Linked DNA regions of Homo sapiens: all the other regions are linked to region 1. Evidence: fine-mapped expression QTL. A gene starts in region 1. Each other region holds a variant in brackets. All regions are shown on one strand. Distances are from middle to middle.

Region 1 (5,000 bases):
GCTCTATTTTTTCTATTCTCTATTTTGTTTATCTCTGCTCTAATTCTTATTATTTCCTTCCTCCTACTAGTTTTGGGTTTCATTTGCTCTTCTACTTCAAGTTCCTATGGTATAAAGTCAGGTTATTGATTTTAGATCTTCTTTTTTAATGTAGACATTTATACCTATAAATTTCCCTTTAAGTACTGCTTTTACCGCATCCCGTAAGTTTTGTCGTGTTGTGTTTTTGTCTCTAGGTATTTTATAATTTCTTTTGTGCTGCTTTTTCTTGTGACTCATTGGTTGTTTGAGTGTTTTGCTTAATTTCAACACATTTGTGAATTTTCCAGTTTTACTTCTGTCACTGATTCCTGTTGTGGTCAGAGAAGATACTTTGTGTGATATCTATCTTTTAAAATTGATTGAGACTTATTTTGTGGCCTAACATATGGTCTATCTAAGAGAATGTCTTACATGTGCTTGAGATGAATGTTTATGCTGATGTTGTTGGGTAGTGTGTTCTTTATATGTTAGATGTAATTAGTTTATTGTGTTGTTTATGTCCTCTATTTCTTTACCTTGTCTGGTTGTTCTATCTATTATTGAAAGTGGACAGATGAAGTCTGCTACCATTGTTGTAGAACTATATCTTTCTTCAATTCTGTTAAGTTTTGCTTCATAAATTTTGAGGGTCTATTATTAGGTGTGTAAATATTTGTAATTGTTTTATCTTCTTGCTATATTGACTATTTTATTAATATATAACATAATGTTTCTGTCTTTGAAAACTTTTTTGATTTAAAGTCTATTTTGTCAGCTGTTAGTACAGCCACTCCAGTTCTCTTTTGGTTACTATTTGCATGGAATATCTTTTTCTATTCTTTCCCTTTTGATCTATTTGTGTCTTTGATCTAAAGTCAGTCTTTCATAGACAGCATATAGTTGGATTCTAGAGTTTGGTTTTTTTTTGTCAATCTGCCTTTTCTTTGGACAGTTTAATCTATTTATATTTAAAGTAATTACTGATAAAGAGGAATTTCTATTTTTCTATTTGTTTTCTATATGCCTTATAGTTTTTTTGTACCTCATTTTCTCTATTACTGCCATCTTTTGTATTTAGCTTATTTTTTGTAGTAAATGTTTTGATTCCCTGATCATTTCCATTTATGTATATTTTACAGGTATTTTTGTGTTTACCATGAGAATTACATTTAACATCCTAACGTTATAACAATCTCATTTTAATTTATACCAACGTAACTTCAATAGCATACAAAGACTCTGCTCCTATATTGCTCCACCCCCACCCTTTCTATTGATGCCACAAATTACATCTTTATACATTGTGTGCCCAATAATATACTAATCTTGTAAAAAATTCTTTCTTAGCTGTCCTAAGAGGAACCAAGGGAGGAAGTGTTCAACCCTGGACCAGTGCTTTAAAGCATCAGCAGAATGTCCCTTACATCAGAGTAATGTGGCATTGGGCAAACCCTAAAGAGCATGGGGCAAACCCTAAAGAATGTGGATAATCAGAAGAATAAAATGTAGGCTATTTGGGCAACCACATTGTCTCACGTGAAGATATTCCTTCCAGAACTGAACTCCTGATGTCTCTGAGTTTTGTTTTACTTAAAGATAAGTCCCTCTTTCCCAGGGGATAGTCTCTGTTTTGGTCTGTCTTCAACTGTATGCAGACTGCAATTTGGGGCTAGCACACAGAAGGCAACATGCTCCTGATCCTTGGGAGTGTGTTCTTGCCGAGTGCACTCAAAAGGAATACAAAGATGAATTATAGGAGATCCGAGTTCCAGAGGGACTGTAAGTTTGTGTAGCTGCTCACAACCAACTTAGCTTAAAGTGGGATGTATGGCTCTCTCTTATTGGTGACTGGGACATTATGCCTTGTCCCTCCAGAGCAGCATTTTATGTGATTCCTTTCTGCTTCTCTAGTGCATCTGTGTCCAATACATGTTTGCTGAATTAATGCATTAGTTGGGACATTTGTAGATTCCCTACAACAATTTACTGCTAGGAGGATTATTTGAACCTAATACATATGCAAATATATATATTTATACTTTTGCAAACATGATATGTATAAGTAGTTCCTAGACCAGTGATTTTCAGACCTTGCTACTCATCAGAATCACCTGAGGAGCCTTCCCAAAACCCCGATTCCTACGTCCCAACCACAAAGATTATTTTAATGAGTCTGAGGTGGAAGCCAGGAATCTACATTTTCAAAAGCTACCCAGGTAATTCTGATATGCAGTCAGCATAGATAACCACAGCCCTTTGACTACCTAAGAAAATGTAGTAGTCAAAAAAAGGTATATGAACTGCCTTCTATTCTTTAGGGAGATTCTATGTTAATATAGCATACGGTCAAGAACACTACCAATGTAGCCACTTCCTAGCTGTTATCTTTAGACAAATTACCTAATCATTCAGAGCTTTAGTTTCTTGATGTGTAAAATAGAGGATATAGGTTTACCATGAGGATTTATGTAAAGCCTTAGCACAGTAGCTGTACTATAGCACACAGTAAATGTTGGCCGGATTTATTCGGCTGTACACATGAGCCACTGGATTTGTCTGGATGCAGAAGTCTACTGCGGTACACCTTCTTCAGCAAGCTCTTGGGAAAGCAGGGGAGATTTCCTGGTACCCTAGGAAGTGGAGGATACTAAAGCCATGTCACAGGGAGGGGCATTATTCTTCGTGCGCGCTTGCTCGCCGGGGTCGGGTTGCTGCTCCGCGCGCGTCCACCAGGGGCCGCTCGAGCTACCTAAGCTCCGTGCGCTACCCGGCGGCGCTCCCGCGCGTGCTCACTCGGAGCAGCGCGCGCCCCGCAATCGCCGCAGCCGCCCCCGCCGTCGGCCGCCGCACCCCAAGCGACTGCCCAAACTAAGCCTCCGTGGCTGGGTACGGGAGCGCTTTGGGGACAAAAATTCTCCCTCAACTGTGGTCTGCATTCCTTCGGCCCGTGGGCTGATCTGGGGCGGGAAGTATTAGCGTCTCAGTTGCGCTGCAGCCGGGGAGGAAGGAGGAGGCCGAGCCTGGGGCGGAGTTTGGGCTGACTGGGGCTGGACCGGGCAAGACGCCGCCGCTGCCCGGATGTTGCGATGGCTGATCGGGGGAGGCCGAGAACCGCAGGGACTGGCCGAGGTAAACCCCGGGTGGGTCTGCTCTGCGTCCGTCGAGCTTGCTGGAGGGGCGGCTTCGTTCCGGTTCGGCCTTCCTGGGTTCCGACCGCGGGGACCCGGGCGGAGGCGGGGCTGGCTGCTGAGCTCGTGCCACGCGCTGTTCTCACGACGGTGGGGGCGGAGGGCGCGGGAGCCGGAGCTCCTCAGACCCGGCGGGACCCCAGGCGCACCCTGGAGCTGCAGACCCCCGGCCCCGTCCCACGGCTAGCTGAATCGTGAGATCCTGGCTCAGGGACGCTCAGCTGGTCAGCAGTCCTATTGGGACCTGTGACAACTTAGGGCTTCTGGCTACCGAAACTATCTTCATTTCCACTTAAAAAGTATACGATTTAGCTAGAAACGAACGAGTTGTGACCGCAGCTTTCCACTTTTGGTTTATTTGAATTGGTGTCTCTTCCTGGCGTCTACTGATACTTGGTCAGGGAATATAAAATTAATTTACTTATCCAACAACCGAAAAAGGATATAATTATTTTTAAAAAGTAATCTGCTTCAAGGTCAAGAACATGATTTTCTAATTAACTGCTGTTTTTGGTTTCATAGTCACACTTTCTTCATGGGCCCGAATAATTGAATAGACCGTGTGTAATGAAATTTACATTTGAAATGTGAATAAAATAATTTTTGCAGTCTTGGAAATTTTGAGGTCCCAAATTTATTTCGTATGCCACACAAGAACTTTCATGCGCGTCCGTGTGAAGAGACCACCAAACAGGCTTTGTGTGAGCAATAAAAGCTTTTAATCACCTGGGTGCAGGCGGGCTGAGTCCGAAAAGAGAGTCAGCGAAGGGAGATAGGGGTGGGGCCGTTTTATAGGATTTGGGTAGGTAAAGGAAAATTACAGTCAAAGGGGAGTTGTTCTCTGGCGGGCAGGAGTGGGGCAAGGTGCTCAGGGGAGCTTTTTGAGCCAGGATGAGCCAGGAAAAGGACTTTTACAAGGTAATGTCATCACTTAAGGCGAGGACCGGCCATTTTCACTTTTGTGGTGGAATGTCATCAGTTAAGGCGGGGCAGGGCATTTTCACTTCTTTTGTGATTCTTCAGTTATTTCAGGCCATCTGGGCGTATATGTGCAAGTCACCGGGGATGCGATGGCTTAGCTTGGGCTCAGAGGCCTGACAAGAACAGAATTTGTGAATTGCATTTTATTTCTCATAAGAAGTATTTGTTTAGATTGTTAAAAGTAAGAAATTGGATTGTTGAGAGTAGGCAGTCTTCTCAATTTTAACTTCCGCATGTCTTTGCAGTTGACGGTATTGTCTGTTTTTAAAAATTTCTTATTTCAGATTAATCCTAAATCCTTGAGATTGTGGATTATTGAATAGCCATATATGGTATATACGACATTTTGGATAATTCTGTTTTAACCTGGTTCTTTGGTTAATCATGTTATTTGCTTAACCAGGTCTCCCATTCCTGGCAAGTTTTCATTGGAGGAGAAGCAGTTTATATAGTTTTCAAATTTCTCACCACAATCTCTTCTAGAAGGAAGACAGAATAAATACAAAATCAATGCTTTGTGGTGGTGGTTTTTTTTTTGGAAAACATTTATGCATGTTTTAAATTTATATATTTCTTCATATAAATCTAATTGAGTTGTATAACTGCTGTGAATTTGTACATTATCGGAACCTATGATTGTCCCTAATTTATGCAATAACTTTGTATCCAGGCTTCTCGTTTAAGCAGTGGTTCTCAACTGGGGTGATTTTTGCCCCGCAGGAGACATTTGGCAATGTCTGGAGACATTTTTGATTGTCATGCCTTGCAGAGGGGCAGTTCTATTGGCATCTAATGTGTATAGACCAGGGA
Region 2 (7,650 bases), 61 kb after region 1:
TTGCCTGTAGTGAAGGAATAAGATCAGTTGAGGTAACAGATTAGCTGTGAGAACTAATAACAGTGTAATCAGGGCCCTAAGGAATTTCTTAAATTGTTCTTCCCTGTTTCATAGCCAAAGAACAAAAAATTTCTTTTCATTTGAAAGGGCATTCATGCTTAGGAGGAGCAGCGGCAGCATCCTTGTTAGTGAGCATTTCCTGTATTTCAGGCACTGTGCTAAACACTGGCTGCTGGAGTTTACAGAGAGAGATGAAAACAGTCCTTGCCCTCATGGATCTTACCCTTGAGTGGAGAGAAGGGGTATAGACCTAATAGGCTGTTACCCTAGGCTGCATTTGATGGACCCAAGTAAGCAGCAGTGACTCAGAAGAAACATTTCTTGCTGAATCTTGTAAATGGTTAGAGGATATAGGACTTGACACTTGAGCTGAACCTTGAAGTTTAGTAGGATGAGTATATAGCCTTGTCATCATAAGCTCCTTGATGTTGGGGTACAGTGTCATAGTTATCTTTGCTTTCCTCTAACAAGTAGCTCAGTTTTTAACTTTGTGTTTATGGTTGGGAGGTGAGCATGGACTGTGGTAGGCAGAAGGGCAAAGATAGCATTTACGTGGTGGCAAGGAGCACCTTGGCTAGGCCGGAGCGCTGGGTTCCTGTGAACAGACACTAGTAGGGGATAAAGCCTGGGAACGTGGTTTGGGGTCAGATTATGGATGTCCTTGAATGTAAGGCTGAGGAGTTTGGACTTTATTTTTTAAATAGTAGGAACTCATTAAAAAGGTTTTTAGATGGTAGGGAAAACCCCATGTAAAAGACATTCAAAATGTGTTTGAATGTGGCACATTTCTCATTCTATAAAACAGTGTCAGCTTCTTAGGAATTTTCCTGAGTGAAAGTGTTGAGACCTGAACACTTTTAAAAAGCATCTCCAGCTTCGTTGATAAAATCTAGGCTATCTTTGCAGTGTCACCTGAATTTCCTCATTTCTTTTTTTTTCTTTGAGACAGCATCTCACTCTGTTGCCCAGGCTGGAGTGCAGTCTTGGGTCACTGTACTCTCCGCCTCCCAGGTTTAAGCAATTCTCCTGCCTCAGTCTCCCAAGTAGCTGGGATTACAGGTGCCCGCCACCACGCCCAGCTAATTTTTGTACTTTTAGTAGAGATGGGGTGTCACCATGTTGGCCAGGCTGGTCCTCATTTCTATTTTCATCCTTGCTCTACTGGCGCAACCCCTCTACCTGTGTACTGAATTTTGTGTTTTCCAGTTTCCGAAGGAATTCTGCTCCCATGTTTCCTCCCTTCACTCCTGCATCCTCAGCTGAGTCTTATCCTGTGGTCTTCAGAAATGTATATGTCATTTCAGAGAAAACTCTTGTTTTTTTTCCCGAGAGGGAGTTTTGCTCTTGTTGCCCAGGTTGGAGTACAATGGCGCAATCTCCACTCACTGCAACCTCTACCTCCTGGGTTCAAGCGATTCTCTTTCCTCGGCCTCCCGAGTAGCTGGGATTACAGATACCCAGCTAATTTTTAGTATAGACAGGGTTTCACCATGTTTGGCCAGGCTGGCCTTAAACTCCTGACCTCAGGCAGTCCACCCACCTCAGCCTCCCGAAGTGCTGAGATTACAGGTGTGAGCCACCACGCCCGGCCCTGTTTCTCTTTTATTTCACCCTTTCCTTCGAGGACCTCATCCTTTTCATTGATTCACTTTTCTGATACAACTCTTCACCCCATAGTATTCATGCTGCCTTTTGTCAACACTCTGTTTTCCTATTCTTAGCTTCCAGCCTATTCCTTCACTGGGCAAGCCCCTTCCCCTTACTTGGGGCATTTTCTCCCTTTGAAGCTTTTTCTGAATTTCTGTGACATGTCATAGTCTATACTGCATTATTTAGTACCTGATTACATAATCTCTCATTGGTACCTTTATTGTTTCAATTATGATTTGCTTTTCAGAATCTTCTTGAGGGTAGGGACCATAAACGTAGTGCTGACACTTAACACCTATGGATTGAGTATATCTACTTTTATAGAGAGCTGAAGCCAGTGTTTATCTTGGGAAATTTAGAATTCAGACATTTTTTCCATAGCCATTATACAGTATAAGTAATGGTTAAGTAAAACCAATACTTGAAAAATCAGATGATGAAAAAATCTGGAAGAACTATGAGAATTCATGTACTTTACAAAAATAGCTATTCTGTAGTTGAACAATATTAACAAAATTCTGATTAAAATATTAGATATTATTTGTATGTGACTTACCAATACTGAAAAATGAAATGAAGTTCTACACCCAGATCCAAAGGAGTCTTTAAGGCACATATCT[C/G]ACACGCACATGTGTTAATGTGGTATTAGACACTTCTCTGCTTTTCGGGGTCCCTATAATCAGTTTTAATTTTCTTTACAGATGTTTCTATACTTTGAAGATCATGGACTAGTGACGTGCTCCGCTGATCATCTCATTATTTTGTGGAAAAATGGAGAGCGAGAATCTGGATTGCGCAGTTTAAGATTATTTCAAAAATTAGAGGAGAATGGTGACTTATACCTTGCTGTCTAGTTTAAGGAATTAAAAATACACATGCATGAACCTTGAACATCAAATATCGGGTACTACTCTGAAAACCATTAATATATTGATCACTTAAATTGGTAATTTTTTTTGTCAGTCCATAAAATTCTACATGTTTAAATTTTTTGTGGACCTACCAACCAGGAACATGTTGCTTCTCAGGTCCTAGTATATCCTCCAAAGAATATACCACAAGTTTTTCCATTTGACTTTGAGCTGCTGTTGAAGTGGTGAGTGCTGTGTTTTGAGCTTATTTTGAACCTAGATCCTTGTGAAAGGTACAAATAGAGGTAATAGTTAAGTTATGGCATTTATTAGAAGTTTTATTATTTGGCTTCCTTTAGAATTATTGTGAAGTTTAAAAATAGCCTTTCTCCTGCAAATTTTCCTAGTCTTTAGTAACTGTTAGTGTTCTATATAGCACAAACTTGAATCTCTCAGCCAAAAAAGGGAACATATATACTGTTTAAGTATGGCAAGTTTTCTTTGGTACCAATTTGTTTAGATAATTTTAAAAATGTTTTTTAGTTCTAGCTACTAAAACCTGTATGAACTCAAATGGATAGGCATCTTGTGAGGGTGTGTTTTTCCCAGTGTGAATTGGCTTGAAGAGCCATGGGCTAAATGGGTACTAGAACAACAACTGCCCCTCATGTACGCCAAGGATGAGCTCTAGATCATTTGAGAGGCACAGTGTTTCCGGAGTCAGGGACTGCAGCTGAGCGCAACTGCCCCATCTGACCACTGACTCAAATACGAACTGCTTGAGACAGACTTCTTTTATGTAGTTCTTTGCAGTGTCCATTGAGACACTATAACCAGCCTTGTAACAATATGTTTTCTCCTTTTGGTGCTAAAAAATGAAAATATTAGAAAGTAGTCTACACATTAAAGATTGAAATTCTTAAACTACTGATGAAGAAAGGGCAACGTGACAGATGTTAGCAGACTGACCCTTCTTACAGAAAACCTACAGATTTATTTGTTCATTATACAAATATACTACAAATATACCCTAAAGGGAATCTCCATAAGTTCTTTTACTAGTTTTAGCTTTGACAGTTGCTTCCACAACTACCTACAAAGACTGGAAGAGTTAAGGTCATCTGAGTAGACCAGTGGCATAATGTTACAAATGAGGAAACTGAGGCCCAGTGCAGTAAGGCCTTGCAATTAAATCTGTAGTGCCCAGTATCACCAAGCAGCTCTAAAAACAGGAACTGAAGACTGAATGAGAAAAGGCTTATATGACTACTTTAAATCCAAACAACATTGAGTCATGAAAAGTTCTATGGAGAAATATTAAAACTTAAGCTACCTCAATTACAGAAGACTTTCTCCCATTATTCACGTGCTTTTTCCTTTAGAAATTCTGCATTGGCCCATACATTTGTAAAGTTGTTTTCTGAAGTTGTATGACACAAGGGAGCCATAGACTTAACTGTTTTACTTCCTAGCCTGTTCTAGGCTAGTATTTTGTGATAGTAATCTATTCAAATGGAGTGGTAGAAATCACATGAATTTTGGAAGCAAATGGTACCGTAAGTACCACAGCAAATTCCTTCTGGTCATTATACAGGCGTACCTCAGAGATACTACAGGTTAGGTTTCAGACCACATCAAAAAAGCAACTATTGCAAATAGAGTGAGTCACATCTAGTTTTTGGTTTCCCAGTGCCTATAAAACTTGTGTTTATACTACAGTCTTAAATTTCTAAAAAATGTACATACCTTAAGAATACTTTATTGCTAAAAAATGCTAACAATCATCTGAGCCTTCAGCGAGTCATAATCTTTTTGCTGGTGGAGGGTCTTGATACTGCTGGCTGTTGACTAAGGTGGTTACTGAAGGTTGGGGTGGCTGTGGCAGTTCCTTAAAATAAGATAGCGATGAAGTTTTCCAAATCAATTGACTTCCTTTCACAAATGAGATCTCTGTAACATGTAATACTATTTAATAGCATTTTACCCACAGTAGAACTTCTTTCAAAATTTAGAGTCTGTCATCTCAAATCCTGATGCTCCTTTATGAACTAAGTTTATAGAATATTCTAAATCCTTTGTTGTCATTTCAACTATGTTTACAGCATCTTCACTGTGGAAATGACTGTCTCCAGAAACCACTTTCTATACACATTCTTAAGCAACTTCTCATCTATTAAAGTTTGATCATGAGATTACAGCAATTCATTCACATCTTCAGGCTCCACTTCTTCCAGACTCCTTTTAATGCTGGAATTTTGACCGCCTCCCATGAATCAGAATGTTCTTAGTGGCATCTAGAATGCTAAATGCTTCCCAGAAGGTTTTCAATTGACTTTGCCCAGACTCTTCAGAGGAATCACTAGTTAGGGCAGCTACAGCCTTATTAAATGTATTTCTTAAATAAATAAGACTTAAAAGTCAAAGTGACTCCTTGACCCATGGACTGCAGCATAGATGTTGTGGTAGCTGGCACGAAGACAACATGAACCTCCTTGTACATCTCCATCAGAACTCTTAGGTGACCAGGTAACATTGTAATGGGCAGTAATATTTGGAAAGAAATTTGAGCAGGTCTCAACCATAGGCTTAAATATTCAATAAACCATGCTATAAACAGATATGCTGTCATCTAGGCTTTGTTATTCCACTTCTAGAGCATAGGCAGAGTAGATTTAACATAATTCTTAAGGGCCTTAAGATTTTTGGACTGGTAAATAAACTCTGACTTCAACTTAAAGGCACCAACTACACTCGCTGGCATTGAACTTCTTCTCCCCAGCTATGAAGTCCTAGATGACATCTCTTCTAATAGAAGACCATTTCATCTTCACAAACTCAGTTGTTTAGTGTAGTCGCCTTCAGTGATCTTAGCTAGATCATCTGGACAACTTCCTGCTGTTGTTGTCCCTTGCACTCTGACGTTAATGGGGATAGTTTCATGAACCAACCTCTGCTTGCTTCCAGCTTTTCTTCTGTAGCATCCTCACCTCTCAGTCTTCGAAGAAAGAATTGAAGAATTAATTAGGCTTTGGCTTAAGGGAATGTTGTGGCTTGTTTAATCTATATAGACCACTCAGACTTTCTCCATCTCAGCAGTAAGGCTGTTTCACTTTCTTGTTTGCATGTTCACTGGAGTTAACACTTTCAAGAACTCTTCCTTTGCATAACTTGGCTAACTGGTGTAAGAGGCATGGCTTTCACCTGCCTGGGCTTTCAACATGCCTTCTTCACTAAGCTTTATTATCTGTAGCTTTTGATTTAAAGTGAGAGACATGTGACTCTTTTACTTGCACATTTACAGGCTACTGTAGGTTATTAATTGGCTTAATTTCGATATTGTTGTGTCTCAGGGAATAGGGAGGTCTAAGAAGAGGGAGAGACTGGAAACCGCTAGTTGGTGGAACAGTTAGAATATACACAAGATTTATCAATTAAGTTCACTGTCTTATACGGGCATGGTTTGCAGTACCCTAAAACAATTACAGTAGTAACAAAGATCACTGATCACAGACCACCATGACAGATACAAGAATAAAAACATTTGAAATACTCTAAGAGTTACCAAAATGTGACACTTACACAAAGTGAGCCCATGCTGGGAAAATGCCCCGATAGACTTGCTCTATGCAGGGTGGCCACAAGCCCTCAATTTGTAGAAAAGGCAGTATCTTTGAAGCACAATGAAGCAGAATGCAATAAAATGAGGTATACTTGTATTCTAATTTTCTGCCATGAAAAACTGTCTAGAGGGCAGTCTCCAACCCTAGGGACTAGATTGCTTTTGTTTTCATGCATGCCCTAAGGTCACAGAGATGGGGGATAACAGTATGATGGGAGATTCTGGTAGGGACTCAAACCTGATGGTGTTCAGTAGTTGCAGGTAGACTGCTGCTAAAAGTTGGACTTTCAATTTAGAATAAAATAATGGGTCAATGTATATTATGTACATTTTCTCCATTTCCTGAGTTTAGCTTTCAACAGTTAAGATACTTGCAACAGCAGAAGTAACACTACATAGTGTTACAGTGTACAAATCCCTTGTCATTTTTATTTTAAAATATATTTATTACCTCAGTCTCTGGCTATATTCACATAGCGCAAGGGCACAAGATCATCCCTTCTGTTTCTCTCTCTAAAGCTGAGTAGGTTCTGAGTGAACTGACAGGCTTGTTTTTTTTTTGCCCAGAATGCTAACCAGTCCTGACATGGAGGGCAAGTAAATTTAAAAATCTTAAATTAGAAATAAAGAATGATCTTAGGAAATTATAGGGTCATTCTGGTCCAGCAGTGTTTTATAACTGGCTTCCTTCTCTTACTAGTCACGGAAATTATTAGAGAGTGTTGCATTTTCCTAATACGGCCCTCCTCAGCACATGACATTTAAGTAAACAACTCTGTGTAAGAGGCAGTTATAATAGTTTATATAATATAAACTATCTGATACACATATCATCTGAAAGCCTGTATTTCTAACAAGTTGACTATGTGGAAGAATAGACTAGTTCGCAGGCCAGAAGATTATACCGTAGATTACACTGGTAAAGAGCAGAAATTGTTGACGCTTTAGTACCTAGCTGTCTTAAAGCATTTTTAAACATTTGCACATTACTAATAAAAAGTTTGAAGTTAACAAGAAATTTGACATAAAACTGAGTAAGCTGTAAATATTTCATATAGAAGATGTCTGACACCTGATAAATGTTACTTACCAAATAGAACTGAAAGTGAGATGATCAGAAAAAGATTGTCCTTGCCTCAAGCAAGCTTCTGAAGCCTAGGCAAGTTAGCTAGGTCCTTAATATGGGATTCTGGCATCCTGATTTTAATGTGCTCTGAAAACAAAGTGTGTGACTCATGAAATAAAGGACACTAAACCCCAAATTTGAAATTATGAAAACTTTAGGCCAAAGAGGTAAAATAAAAACAGCTGTTGGGAGTGAAAAATGGCTGTAGGAATTTAGTTACAAGTACTTCACAAAAACATTTTCATCACATTTACATAATATAGCATTACAATACAAAGCTGGCTGCTGTCCTGACCAAGCAAGTTCTCTTATCATCTAACAAAAATAATTTAGATACATTTCTT
Region 3 (5,000 bases), 63 kb before region 1:
TCAGGATGTTTAATAGCGTAAACAAATGGAAAACTTCAGCTTGTGATCCAAGGTCGTTTTCAAATTGGAAATGACCTCAGCCTGCCCCAAGAGGGCTAATGATGTAAAAATAAGTAGGGCCCAGTCCTCTGGGGAATTCGGTGCAGGTCAGCGAGGCTCTTTTGGTGAATGCGGCAATCTGCTCTGCCTCCATAGGCCTTTGTGTAGCCAGACTCCCTGGGAAAGGTGGGCTGTCTGCTGTTGCCTGGCACATATGTAAGAATATTCTTTTTCAATTTCCTTTTCTATTTTTCTTAGATTTTTACTCATGCACAAGGAAAAGCTCATAAGACACTAAAAATGTCACAATGGTAAATTTTCCTTTCCTAAACAGAAAGAGAATTCAAGAGCAATGATTTTTCTTTATACAAATTGTTTTTTAAAGTTAAATATTAATTTAAAATATATTAACATTTGAAGAATCGCATTTTAACGATTACCTACATACCTACTCCTGTTTTGTTTTTTTTTTTTTTTTTTTTTTAAAAAGAACATTTGAAGTTCCCTATGTGTTCATTTCTTCCCTCCCTACTTAAAGGTAATCATTACACTGACGTGGGGTTTTTATTTGCTTGTTCTTACTCACTGCATTGCCACATTTTTTCTTCTAAACAATATGTTGTTTAATTTTGCATGTTTTTGGCCTTTATATAAAGATAATCATACCGTATACATTCTTTTGTAACTTCATTGCTTCTACTATAAGTCATTACTTTTAACTCTCACCTAATAGTCCATTGTATGAATATGCCACAGTTTATTCATTCTACTGTTGGTAAACATTTGGGCTGTTTTCATTGTTCTCTATTATGAATAGTGTCACTATACTCTGAGTATTACTACACATGTATTTTGGTGTATATGTGCAAGAGTTTCTGTAGGTACGTGCCTAGGAGTGGAATTGCATGCCTTCAAATCCACTAAGCAATTAATGCCAGACTGCTTTTTCAAAGCGACTATACTGATTCCTACTGCCATGAGAAGTGTACAAGTGTTCTAGTGGCTCACGCTAACATTTAATATTGTCAGAATTTTTAATTTTTGCAAGCTTTACAGATGTGAAATGTCATCTTACTGTGAGCATCTTTTATCTTTTTATACTTTTGGTTACTTCTGCCACCTCTTTGTGAAATGCTTGCTCAAGTCTTCTGTCCATTCTCTATTGGATTGTGTGTGTTTCTCTGGTGACTTATAGTAGGTCTTTGTATATTCTGGGTACAATTTTGGGGGCTCATTTTTAGGGTGTAACAAATCACTTCTCCCAGAGTGTGGTTTACTTATTTATTCTCTTAATGGTTTTTTGTTTTGTTTTGCTTTTAAACAGAAGTTTTTAACTTTAATATACTAGAGTTAAATTTATCACTTTTTCTTTATGGTTAGTACTTTCTGTGCTATGTCTAGTAAATCTTTCACTACCTTGAGATCATAAAGATATTCTTCAATTTTGTCTTTTAAAAGTTTCATACTTTTGCTTTTAATATAACTCCTAATCCACAAGGAATTTTTTGTTTATGTGTGTAAAAGGGATCTGTAATAAATAATCTAATTCCATTTTTGATGTTTGACTACCAACAGCTTTCAGGCTCCACCCCTCCCCCTTTCCCTCTTGCCCAGCATCTGGCAAAGCTGATTAGAAACCCCAGGTGCCCCCTCCCTTGGTGCCAAGGAGAAGTTCAAATCATCCCTCATACTGGCCCTATCACTGACCACATTAAAAATCAAAGACCCTTTTCTCTCCCTCCCTCAAGCCATTTAGAACTGGCTTGGATGCCTGTCCTGTTCTGACCAGAAAGCCTCATTGTGTGTAATAAACTTTTAAAATACCTTCTTGTTGTAAATGTGGTATCAACAATCTTGATATCTGAACCAGTTTTGGATGGGGGCATTGAGCTCACCTTTCATGGGGCAACCACAAAAATAAGACCCAATTTCACTTTTTTCCCCACATGAATAACCAGCTGTCTTAGTGATATTAAATTTAAAACTCCACAAACAATACAGAAATTAGCTGGGTGTGGTGGCGCGTGCCTGTAATCCCAGCTACTTGGGGGCTACACGTAGGAGAATTGCTTGAACCCAGGAGGCAGAGGTTGCAATGAGCCGACATCATGCCACTGCACTCTGGCCTGCGCAGTAGAGCGAGACTCCACCTCAAAACAAACAAACAGTCAGTCAGTCGGGTGCAACGGCTCACGCCTGTAATCCCAGCGCTTTGGGAGGCCAAGGTGGGTGGATTACTTGAGGTCAGGAGTTCTAGACCAGCCTAGCCAACATGGTGAAACCCCATGTCTACTAAAAATACAAAAATTAGCTGGGCGTGGTGGCATGGGCCTATAATCCCAGCTATTTCGGCAGGCTGAGGCAGGAGAATTGCTTGAACCCGGGAGTCGGAGGTTGCAGCGGGCCGAGATCGCACCACTGCACTTCAGCCTGGCAACAGAGAGAGACTCCATCTCAAAAAAAAAAAAAAAAAAAAAAAAAAAGTCCATCTTTTCCCCACCACCTTTGTCAAAAATCAAACCTGTTTCTGGGTTCTGGGTTCTCTGTTTTCAACTGTTGGTTATTTTTGCTATTTCTGTGCAAATGCCACTGTGTTAATTGCTCCAGCTTTATAAAACACCTGATATCTGGTAAGGCAAGTCTCTTCCTTCTGTTTTTCTTCTTCAGTAGTGTTTAATTCTTGGCTCTTTTCTTTCCATATGAATTTTAGAATCAGCTTGTTAGTTTCCACAAAGAAACCTTGTTAGGATTTTGATTGAAATAGTATTGAATCTTTACATCTTTATGAATTTGTCTTCCAATCCATGAGGATAAGATTTATACTTCATTTATTTAGTCTTTTTATCTCTTTCAATAAAATTTTATAATTTCTTCATAAGGATCTTACCCATTGTTTGTTAGATTCATTTCTAGGCACTTTATATTTTCGGATGCTGTTGTAATTAATGTCTTTTTTAAAGATAATTACAGGCTAGGCGGGGTGGCTCA[C/T]ACCTGTAATCCCAGCACTTTGGGAGGCTGAGGCAGGAGGATCTCTTGAGCTCAGGAGTTCAGGACCAGCCTGGACAACATAGCGAGACCTTGCCTCTGCTAAAAACCAAAACAATTAGCTGGGTGTGGTGGTGTGCACCTGTAGTCCCAGCTTCTTGGGAGACTGAGGTGGGAGGCTCACTTGAGCCAAGGAAGTTGAGGCTGCAGTGAGCCGTGATCATGCCACTGCCCTTCAGCCTGTGTGACAAAGTGATACCCTGTCTTAATAAATAAATGAATTAAATAAAAGATAATTGTAGAGTAATATGCAGTTTAAGATACAACGCAGAAAGATCCTTTGTACACTTTGCCCAGTTTCCTCCAACGGTAACATTTTTGAAAATAATAGCATAGTATTACAACCAGAAAATTAATACAATTCACTGATTTTATTTAGATTTTTCCAATTTGAATTGTACGAGTGTGTGTGTTAAGTTCTATATACTTGTATTTTTTTTTTTTTTTGAAACAGGGTCTTGTTGTCTCACCCAAGCTGGAATGCAGTGGTACAATCAGGTACAGCCTCCACCTTCTGGGATCAATGAATCCTCCCACCTCAGCTTCTTGAGTAGCTGGGGCTACAGGTGTATGCCACTGTGCCCAGTTAATTTTTGTATATTTTGTAGGTTGGTCTCGAATTCCTGGGCTCAAGTGATCCACCCACCTCAGCCTCCCAAAGTGCTGGGATTGCAGGCATGAGCCACCCCACCCGGCCTCTAGGCACTTTTATCAGCTATGTAGATTCTTGTATCCACTACCACTGTTCAAGATACTAAACAGTTCCAGCACAACAAGGATCCTTCCTGTTGCTCTTTATAACTACACCACTGTCTTAGTCCATTTGTGTTGCTATAACAAAATACTATAAACTCATAAACAACAGAAATTATACTAAATAAGTTATAAATTATACTATATATTATAAATTATAAAAAATTTATATTATATAATAATAACAAATTTATTTCTGATAGTTCTGGAGGCTGGGAAGTCCGAGATCAATACATCAGCAGATTCAGTTTCTGGAGAGGGCCTGTCTCCTAGAAAGGTACTTTGTAGTTGTGTCCTCACATGGTGGGAAGGGTGAGCTAGCTCTCTGGGATCTCTTCTACAAGAGCACTAATCCTATTCACGAGGGCTCTACCATTATGACCTAATCACCTCCCAAAGGTCCCACTTTCTAATACCATCTCACTGGTGATTAGATTTTAACGTAAGAATTTCAGGGGGACAGAAACATTCAGACCAGAACAACTACTTCCCTACCTCCCCTCACCAATCTCTACCATCTGGCAACCACTAATCGATCCTCCATTTCTAAAATTTGGCACTCCCCAAATTTTATATGCATGGAATAATGTAGTGTGTAACTTTTGGGGATTATAAAACACTATATCATTGTACTCAGCAGAATTCCCTAGAGACATCCAAGTCATATGTATCAACCGACTATTTATTTTTATTGCTTAGTAGAATTCCATGTTGTGCATATACCACAATTTCTTTAACCATCTGTTGACTTCCAGTTTTTAGCAATAACAAATAAAGCTGCTATAACCATTAATTATTTGGGTTTTTATGTTAAAATAACTTTCATTCCTCTGGCATAAATGTCCAGAAGTGCAATTATTGGGTTGTATGGTAGTTGCAAGTTTAACATTTTAAACAACTGTTAAACTCTTTTCCAGAGTGGCTTACCATTTTACATTCCCACCAGTAATGTATGAGTGAACCAGTTTCTCTGCATCCTTGCCAGCATTTGGTGGTGTTATTTTTTAAAATCTTAGTCATGTTGATATGTGTGTAGTGGTATCTCATTGTAGTTTTAATTTAAAGTTTCCTAACAGCTTATGATATTGAATATCTTTTCATGTGCTTATTTTTATCATCTTTGGTAAATGTCTGTTTATGTCTTTTGTTCATTTAATAGATTT

Alleles and levels. Positions count from the first base shown, and alleles are read on the strand shown. Sizes are in standard deviations (SD) of each study's normalised expression. Not every link is listed here.
As copies of C replace G in region 2, the expression in prefrontal cortex of the gene that starts at base 3,004 in region 1 goes up (moderate effect, 0.49 SD a copy in CommonMind).

The links.
Region 2: its variant is fine-mapped to the expression of WDR41 in prefrontal cortex (CommonMind, PIP 0.95).
Region 3: its variant is fine-mapped to the expression of WDR41 in blood mononuclear cells (TOPMed, PIP 0.95).

What each region holds. Positions count from the first base shown.
Region 1 is chr5:77,490,320-77,495,319 of GRCh38, reverse strand. WDR41 (WD repeat domain 41) reads left to right here and starts at 3,004. Exons shown (of 13, transcript NM_018268.4): 1 at 3,004-3,150. The coding sequence starts at 3,100. RefSeq lists silencers at 2,699-2,838, 3,279-3,498 and an enhancer at 2,619-3,542.
Region 2 is chr5:77,428,049-77,435,698 of GRCh38, reverse strand. WDR41 (WD repeat domain 41) reads left to right here. Exons shown (of 13, transcript NM_018268.4): 13 at 2,412-4,766. The coding sequence ends at 2,564. PDE8B (phosphodiesterase 8B) reads right to left here. Exons shown (of 22, transcript NM_003719.5): 22 at 7,443-7,650. Among named protein-coding and RNA genes, the nearest start is that of WDR41, 60 kb to the left of the region's middle. The variant C/G (reference allele first, on the strand shown) is at 2,331.
Region 3 is chr5:77,553,618-77,558,617 of GRCh38, reverse strand. It overlaps a transcript of WDR41 not described here. Among named protein-coding and RNA genes, the nearest start is that of WDR41, 64 kb to the right of the region's middle. The variant C/T (reference allele first, on the strand shown) is at 3,028.